2 separate regions of the Homo sapiens genome follow, and region 1 is linked to region 2. Evidence: fine-mapped expression QTL. A gene starts in region 2. The other region holds a variant in brackets. All regions are shown on one strand. Distances are from middle to middle.

Region 1 (4,395 bases), 35 kb before region 2:
GGGCCAGAACTCAAACTGAGGGCATTCTGGTTCCTACCTACTGAGACTATCTGCAAACAAATGTACCACAACCTGAAGAACAGCAGCAGAACTATGCCTCAAAGGCCTAGATGGAAAACCTGTTGGGGACTGGCGCGGTGGCTCGCACCTGTAATCCCAGCACTTTGCGAGGCCAAGGCGGGCAGATCACCTGAGGTGAGGAGTTTTGAGGCCAGCCTGGGCAACATGGTGAAACCCCGTCTCTACTAAAAACACAAAAATCAGTCAGGCACAGTGGCGGGTGCCTGTAATCCCAGCTACTTGGGAGGCTGAGGCAGGAGAATCACTTGAACCTGGGAGGCCGAGGTTGCAGTGAGCCGAGATCATGCCATTCATTGCATTCCAGCCTGGGTGACGGAGTGAGACTCAGAAAAGGAAAAAGGAAAAGGAAAGGGAAAATCTATTGAATGGCTCATGCCTATAATCCTAGCACTTCGGGAGACTAAGGCTAGAGGATCAATTGCAGTCAGGAGTTCAAGACCAACGTGGGCAACACAGCACGACTTCACCTCTATTTTATAAAAAAAAAAGTTAGAAAAGTAAAAATCTGTAAGAAAGGAAGAAAGGACTATGTAGATGGCACCTCCAGACAAGATTTAGCATCCTATGCCAGATCAAGTATATGTTTTTGGTTCACAGAAGTCAGTGGCCCAACCCCGGGGAGTATCCTTGTACTGTTACGGTGTCTGTGCTGTAATAAGACGATGTGTCCATTACCTTGATGCATGTGGCTGGGGAACCTACGTATGTATTGAAGCAGCAGAAAGAGAGGACATAAGTAGTGGACATCCATCCCTCTGTAGACAATCAGCCTTGATGACAGCTACATTTCTCCCTAGGTCTCTTAAAGGAGCAGCTGAAGATCACCAGAGTATCCAGGCCTGAAATCTGTTTTTCTTTTCTTTTCTTTTTAGAGATGGGGTCTTGCTCTGTTGCCCAGGCTGGAGTGCAAAAATAGCTCACTGCAGCCTTGAACTCCTGGGCTCAAGTGATCCTCCTGCCTCAGCCTCCCAAGTACAAGTCTATTTTCAACCATCTCAAGTACTTATTTGGTCTTGGTAGAGATGAATGAGGACTCTACCTTCCATCTCACATACAACCATCATCACATCAAAAAGCATGAAGTGCCTAATTACAAAAAAAGAAAAGGTAGTGGTAGCTCTGTTAATTTTATTTATTTATGAGACAGGGTCCTATTCTGAGGCCCAGGCTGGAGAGCAGTGGCTCACCGTAGCCTCGATATCCAGGGCTCAAGCAATCTTCCCACCTCAGCCTCCTGGGTACATATGGCTACAGGTATGCATAACCATGCCCAGCTAATTTTTTTTGTACCTTTTTGTAGAGACAGGGTTTTACTATGTTGCCCAGGCTGGTCTCAAACTCCTGGGCCACCCACCTTGGCCTCCCAAAGTGCCAGGGGGTTACAGGGAGAAGCCACCATACCTGACCTCTGTTAATTTATAATCCAGCCAGGCACGGTGGCTCATGCCTGTAATCCCAGCACTTTGGGAGGCTGAGGCGGGTGGATCACCTGAGGTCAGGGAGCTCGAGACCAGCCTGACCAACATGGAGAAACCCCGTCTCTA[T/C]TAAAATTACAAAATTAGCCAGGCGTGGTGGTGCATGCCTGTAATCCCAGCTACTCAGGAGGCTGAGGCAGGAGAATCACTTCAACCCAGGAGGCGGAGTTGCAGTGAGCCAAAATCGCACCATTGCACTCCAGCCTGGGCAACAAGAGCAAAACTATGTCTCAAAAAAAAAAAAAATTATATCCAAGAAAACACTGATGTGGATAAACATATTAGGCATATAATAAATCATTTAGTATATTAATATGGAGTACCTAGAAGATGTTAATAAATCATGCTACACAAACATTACCTATTTAATTTGTACTGTCAAGCAAAAGTAGGTTATCTTTGTGTTACTTATTATAGACTTTTTGTCTATAATAAGACGACTTGAGTCCACAGTGGAAAAGAGAAGTGGTAAGTGGGTATTTCCCACAGATGCTACTAACACATTTTCTCTAAGTATTACCAAAAAAAATCTAATTATAATTACATGCTGCAGAGGCAGCATATATGAATGTAAAGCACTAGGCTTCTGTAGTCAGAGAGACCCAGGTCCACAGGCCAGCTCCACTATTTATTAGCGATTTCACCTTGGACATCTTACTTAAACTCTCTGGGCTTCAGTTTCCTCATCCAGAAAAATGGAGATAATCATACTTTCATAATAACCATCAAGACTATTATAGTTATAACAGTGCCTAACATTCATTGAGTACTTCCTAGGTACATGCATTTACCATGTACTTCCCTGAGTCCTCGCAAGGACCCTATCATATGTTATTGGTTCCCATTTGGCAGGTGGGGACACGGGATCAGAGAGATGATAGCTGTCCAAGGTCACATAGTAAGTCAGAGGTGTAATGGGAACCCAAATCTGTCTGTCTCCAAAGCCTTAACCAGTATGCTAACAGTGTGAAAGCACCTAGGTCAGGGCTGGTATAGTAGCTGCTCAATAAACATTAGTCATTATTACAAAGCATCATTTCCATAATCAACTGCAAGCTCAAATTTGTGTCACTGATATAGCATCATCAGAGAATGTGCTATTTCAAACATATAAACTCTACGGAGCTTACCATTTCAACATGTCAAAACCTGGTTAACTTTGATTGTTTAAAAATAGACACACTCCAGACTTCCCTGACTTCTTTATTAGAAGACCTTGAACATGACTTACTCTTTGGCTGATGGGTCCAAGTTCATTATTAAGACTACACATTACTGTATTAAGCTGTGATACACAATACCAGCACTGTCTATCTTTTAGGCCTTTCTCTTTCAACGTCAGCCTACCCTCTGCTCTCCTCTGTCAACTTTTCCACGCCCTTGCTATATTGCTGTTTATGATCTGCTATGGAGGGGAGACCACACGCATACTACCAAAATTATGTAAAGTTCCTAGATAAATAAAAGTAAACAAGCTCTAAATGCGAGGCTAACAAACTCTACTGTGGTGGGAAAGGACACATGTTCGTGGTAGAGTTTTTCAACAGTTATTTTCATGTGCACTGAGGCCCCTTTCTTACTTTCTGGCTGTCTTCCAGAGGACTGAAGTTGCCAGATGTCAGATTTCCACATAAGGGTGGTGTCCTAAGTATTTTCTTAAAAAAAAAAACACCACACATAATGTCCTGCAAACTTCTTAGCCATCTAGATGTTTATGTTATTAAAACTATTCCTTAACCTTCGGCCAAATTAGATACTATTTTTCTTCTTATACTACATTTTCTCAGATTTCATCTATCAGACTAGATATATCTAATTATCTAAAATATCAAGTAAAGAATTAGCATAAACCCCATATAATTACTTAGAGAACTACCCCATTACACAAAGGGAGTAATGCTTGTAATCTGAAAGAGTTAAAGCTTCTCCCAGAGAACCTTTTCACTCTACCAGAAAATGACTCAGAAGCAGAGGAGAATCTGGCTCAATAAATACTTTTACTGACTGACCTCCTACTCCATTGGAATGAGTGCATAATCACTGAGGAGCACACACCCTAGAAGGGTACTGAAGTCACGGCCTCGCTAAATTACATGATTCATGTGTGAGACCCAAAAGTATGTATAATATGACGAATCTCATCTGTCTTCTCTGCCCTGTATACCCTATGAAAAGCAGCTACTCTTATTCATGCCAGGGCCATTTTAGAAGCCTGAGCATATATTTTGAAACAATCATAAATGGCTTCTATAAGCTGTTCCACCAACTCCAGATAGAAGTAAAAAGAACTGCAGAGGAAATCAGAACACAGATGGGCTTGAGAGAACACCGAGGAAATTACTGCTTATATGGCATGATTTCAGGGACAGCAGAAAAATTTGCTATGAAAACACCATCTTCTTCCCTTGCTGGTGAACGCCTATCTTTCCACCTTTAGGGAGTCATTCTGCATTTGAAATATAGATATATTTGGAAAGAAAATTCTTCAAACCCTTTTAGAATGTAAACTCTGTGAAGGAAGAGATTTATTTCATTCACTGGTCTACAGCAGTGCCTGGCACATAAAATATTTTCAGATTTTTGATGAACAAACGATTTGTTGAAGTTTGGGAAAATATATGAAACTCTTTTTTTATTCTTATCTTTTAAAAATTTTTTTCCAATAATCCAACCTGTCACAATATATGAAACTATTCATATCAAAATCTCAAGTTTTACTTACCTAAAACTAAATTAACCATCTCTTCCCCAAAAATAGTTTTACCTTCCAGCTTGTCTATCTATGTATGGCACTGGCAACAGTGCCATAGCAATGTCATAGAAATCTTCCAGGTCAAGC
Region 2 (4,395 bases):
GCCTGTAATCCCAGCATTTTGGGAGGCTGAGGCAGGCGGATCACCTGAAGTCAGGAGCCAGAAAAGAGGAAGAGATTGATGGAACGTTGAGGGAAATGCCCTGCCTTGGGGCTGCAAGACAAATAAATAACTGGTGCATATTTAAACAGATCGTTTATGAAGATTATTATTATCTCAGCCAAAAAATACACAATATGAACACTGTATAAAAGTCAATTTATCACATTCTCTGAGTCAGACTGTTCTTGGCTTATTGCAAAAGTTATCAGTGCACTGCACGAACCCCGTTCCCAAGCCAGACTTGAGCTACTCTCCACCCTCCAGAAATCACTCCATTGCAGCCTCTGAATTTAAGTGAATTTAACACGTAAGTATCTGCAATTTGAAAAGTCACTTTTCACTTATTTTAGCCCAACCCTGATAAAGTGACTGAGAGAGCTGAGAATAATGAATTTGAAGATTCGCTATGCCCCATTATGCAGAATTCTAAAAATCTTTTCTTCTTAAAACATTTTTATTATCACAATGAGTGACGTGTTTCAAGTTAACATGTAAAATCGGAGAACTCGAGACAGAAGAGGACCTTAGAGATCCTTTAATTCAATATTTTAGAGAAAAATGGGTAGAGGATAAACTAACTTGCTGATCACCGTGTCGGTATTCATGCTGTGAAAGTAATAAACGGAACACCAACTGAGAAATGATCCCCGAATGCTGTCAGGTACTTCAGTCTTGCAAAAACTACTACAGATTAATCAGTCCTGCTCATCCGTTTAACTCAGCTATGTAAACAAGCAGAGCTAGACTATGCTCAAACCCTAAATATTAGCGTTACCACTCGCCTGCCACATACTACAGCATCATTAGTTATGAAAGTGTTTTAATACAAGATCTTCATGTTTGTGTAAAAGAATTACTATAAAACAGACCTAAAGGCAAGTTACCCATATTCCAGAATAAGTGAGTGCCAAAAATATTCACCCTTCATTACAGTACAAATGAGACAGGCAGTAATAATGAGACTGCATTTAAAGTTGTTTTTGCACTTAAAATTTAAGTCTATACTCCTCATCTGCATCAGGCCCCGGCCTGTTTGGTAACCTCAATATTCCTTTACTAAAGTGACAGCATCACCACCCTTTGAGACACAGATGCCCGGTGGACATCTGTGCCTGCAGCAGGAACGCGGGTGTCCGCGGGTTTCTGCAAAACTCCACCATGACCAAAGCTGCATCTCCAGCTGAACAGGTCTAACCCTTGCTTCGGAAGCCATCTGTCCCTGTCTCCCTGACACAGAATCACGGCCTCCTATGCCGTAAGGCTCCGAACATCTGTAAAATCAGCGGGGTGGACTAACGCAGAATTCTTTTTCCAGCTCTCAAAATTCCGCCTCATTGCCGGAGTGGCAGGGCGGTGCAGAGAAAGAGCCCTGGGCTTGACACCGCTTGAAAAGCCCACGTTCGCATTGCTCTGACCACCCCTCCAACTCCCGGGGACTACAGGAGTGCGAGGGGGCCCGCTGCGCCCCACTGTCCCTCGCGGGCTCCTGGCCCACAGAGCGCAGCACAGCGCCGCCGCTGGGAAAGGGCCGATACAGGCCTAGCCGCGCGGCGCGGCGCGGCGCGTCTCTCGGGGTGCGGGTCCCCTCCGCCCGCGGCCCCGGACCGCGACCCCCGCTCCCCGCCCGGCCCCCGCCCGGCTCCGGCCTGGCCCGGCCTCTGACCTGCTTTCCGCCGCCCGGCGGTCCCTCGGCGCGGCAGGCAGTTGCAGCCGCCAGTCCCCAGCCCGCTGTCACCTCCGCCCCTGGAAGCGGCGGGCGGGTCGATCCCGTGTGAGTCAGCGCGCCGCCCCGCCTCCCGCTCAGGCTTCCGCCTCTGCCGGCGCGGTCCGCGCGGCCCCGGGGGCGCCAAGCTCCGCTGCCCGCGCGCCCACCTCTCCGGCGCCCGCCCCGCGCTCGCGCCCCCTGGCGGCCGGCCCGGCCCTGCTCGCCTCGCGACGTCAGAGGGGCGTCGCTCCCAGAACGGCCACCGGGGAAACTGAGGCACGGGGGCCCGCCCCCGCCGCAGCGCGCCGACACGGCTCGTCGGGCCTCGGCCTCACGCAGTCCTACGTGCAGCCCCGGCTGCGGACAAGTTCCTCCACTCTTGCTGTTCCCCCACTCCCGACACCACCCTCCAACCTAGAAAAAAGTCAAAATTCCATTCAGAGAAGTCCAAGTCGATTCCTGTCTGCGTGTGATGCTGTCCTCTTTGCTACCCCGAGGCAGTTTCCCTTATTATGCCACACAATACTCGCTGGGGTTCGCCTCTATCTGTCCCATTTTTTTCTGAGGAAAGTCTCTCAGGACATCTTTGAGAATTTGAGAGCAAGAAATGACAGAAGCAAGAACTGGGCAGGGCTGTCAGAACTCCTCCTCCGACTCAGTTTCTGAATCCCCGCAGTATTCCCGTTGTTTGTTTAAAGACCACGAAGTTACACAGCTTGGCTATGTTGCTGGAATTGCTGCGCCTCACGTTTCTGGAATCTACCTAGAGGATTCTGAAGAAGGCGGCGAGTCTATGACTGTGCATGCACAACAAAAATAAATATTTCACAAATCTCATCCCATGCTGTATATGTTTCTCCTTCCCTTTGCTTTTTAAAAACTTGTGGTTAAATATATATCACATGAAATTTACCATTTTAATCCTTTTTAAGTGTACAGTTCAGTGGCATTAAGTACATTGACATTGTTCTGCAACCATCACCACCATCCAGCTCCAGAACTTTTTCATCTTCCCAAACTGAAACTGTACCCATTAAACACTAACTCCTCATTCTCCAGCCCCTGGTAACCATCATTCTACTTTCTGTCTCTATGATTACTCTGGATACCTCATATAAGTGGGATCATACAATATTGTCCTTTTGTGAGTGGCTTCTTTCACCTAGCATAATGTCTTCAAGGCTCACCCATGTTGTAGCATGCGTTAGAATATCCTTCCTTTTGAAGGCTGAATAATACTCAATTGTACGTATATAACATCTTTGGTTTATCCCATCTTTCTGTGGACATTTGGGTTGTTTGTACCTTTAGGCTATGGTGAATAATGCTGCAATGAACATGGGTGTACAAATATCTGAGTCCCTACTTTCAATTCTTTTGGGTATATATCCAGAAGAATTGCTGGATCATGTGGTAATTCTGTGTTTAATTTTTTGAGAAGCCACCATACTGTTTTTTTTTCCTTTGCTTTTTGAAGCATGTTAACACTGTAAAGAGAACATTTTGTAGTAAAATATCAACGTTCGGAGAGTCTTTAAAATTCTTAGCAATGCTTCATTTGCCTGTAAAACTGTGACTTTTCGGCGGATCACGAGGTCAAGAGAACGAGACCATCCTGGTCAACATGGTGAAACCCTGTCTCTACTAAAAATAAAAAATTAGCTGGTCATGGTGGTGGGTGCCTGTAGTCCCAGCTACTCGGGAGGCTGAGGCAGGAGAATCGCTTGAACCCGGGAGGTAGAGGTTGCAGTGAGCTGAGATCGCGCCACTGCACTCCAGCGTGGTGACACAGCGAGACTCCGTCTCAAATAAATAAATAAATAAATAAATAAATAAATATTTTAAAACAAGTGACTTTTCTTTCCTCAAGAAAGTAATTAACATTGCAAATCTATTGTCTTTATTTTTGGATAATGTTATTAGCCAAAATAAAAATAACTTATTATTCAGTTTCCTACAATTTTGTTTTCTGTGGATGTAGCTTTCTAAAGTTGTTTGGAGTCAAGTATGCCATATGAAATTCAGATGAAAAATCAAGCATTTCGTTTTATTTATTTTTTTCGCCACGTTGGTCAGGCTGGGCTTGAACTCCTGACCTCAGGTGATCCACCCTCCTCGGCCTCCCAAAGTACTGGGATTACAGGCATGAACCACTGCGCCCAGCCTGGGGATCGGAGTTTTTTGTTTGTTTGTTTTTTTGAGACGGAGTCTCGCTCCGTCTCCCAGGCTTGAGTGCAGCGGCGTGATCTCGGCTCATTGCAAGCTCCGCCTTCTGGGTTCCCGCCATTCTCCTGCCTCAGCCTCCCGAGTAGCTGGTACTGCAGGCGCCCGCCACCACGCCTGGCTAATTTTTTTTTTGTATTTTTGTAGTAGAAACGGACTATCACCGTGTTAGCCAGGATTGTCTCCATCTCCTGACCTTGTGGAGTTTTTAAAGATAATTTGGCTGGTGGGGTCTTGAGAAGTGGGGAGTGCTGATTGGTCAGGTTGGAGATGGAAACATAGGGGGTCAAAATGAGGTTTTCTTGCTGTTTTCTGCTCCTGGGTGCAATGCAGAACTGGTTGAGCCAGATTACCGGTCTGGATGGTGTCAGCAGATCCATCAACTGCAGGGTCTGCAAAATATCTCA

Evidence for each region. PIP is the estimated chance that this variant, and not a neighbour inherited with it, causes the effect.
Region 1: its variant is the best candidate, but not a certain one, in a credible set for the expression of DNMBP in whole blood (TOPMed, PIP 0.57).

The regions. Positions count from the first base shown.
Region 1 is chr10:99,973,572-99,977,966 of GRCh38, forward strand. All of the region lies in intron 1 of DNMBP (dynamin binding protein), which reads right to left. Among named protein-coding and RNA genes, the nearest start is that of DNMBP, 34 kb to the right of the region's middle. The variant T/C (reference allele first, on the strand shown) is at 1,626.
Region 2 is chr10:100,008,115-100,012,509 of GRCh38, forward strand. It overlaps DNMBP (dynamin binding protein), which reads right to left and starts at 1,833. Exons shown (of 17, transcript NM_015221.4): 1 at 1,724-1,833. RefSeq lists a silencer at 1,606-2,125.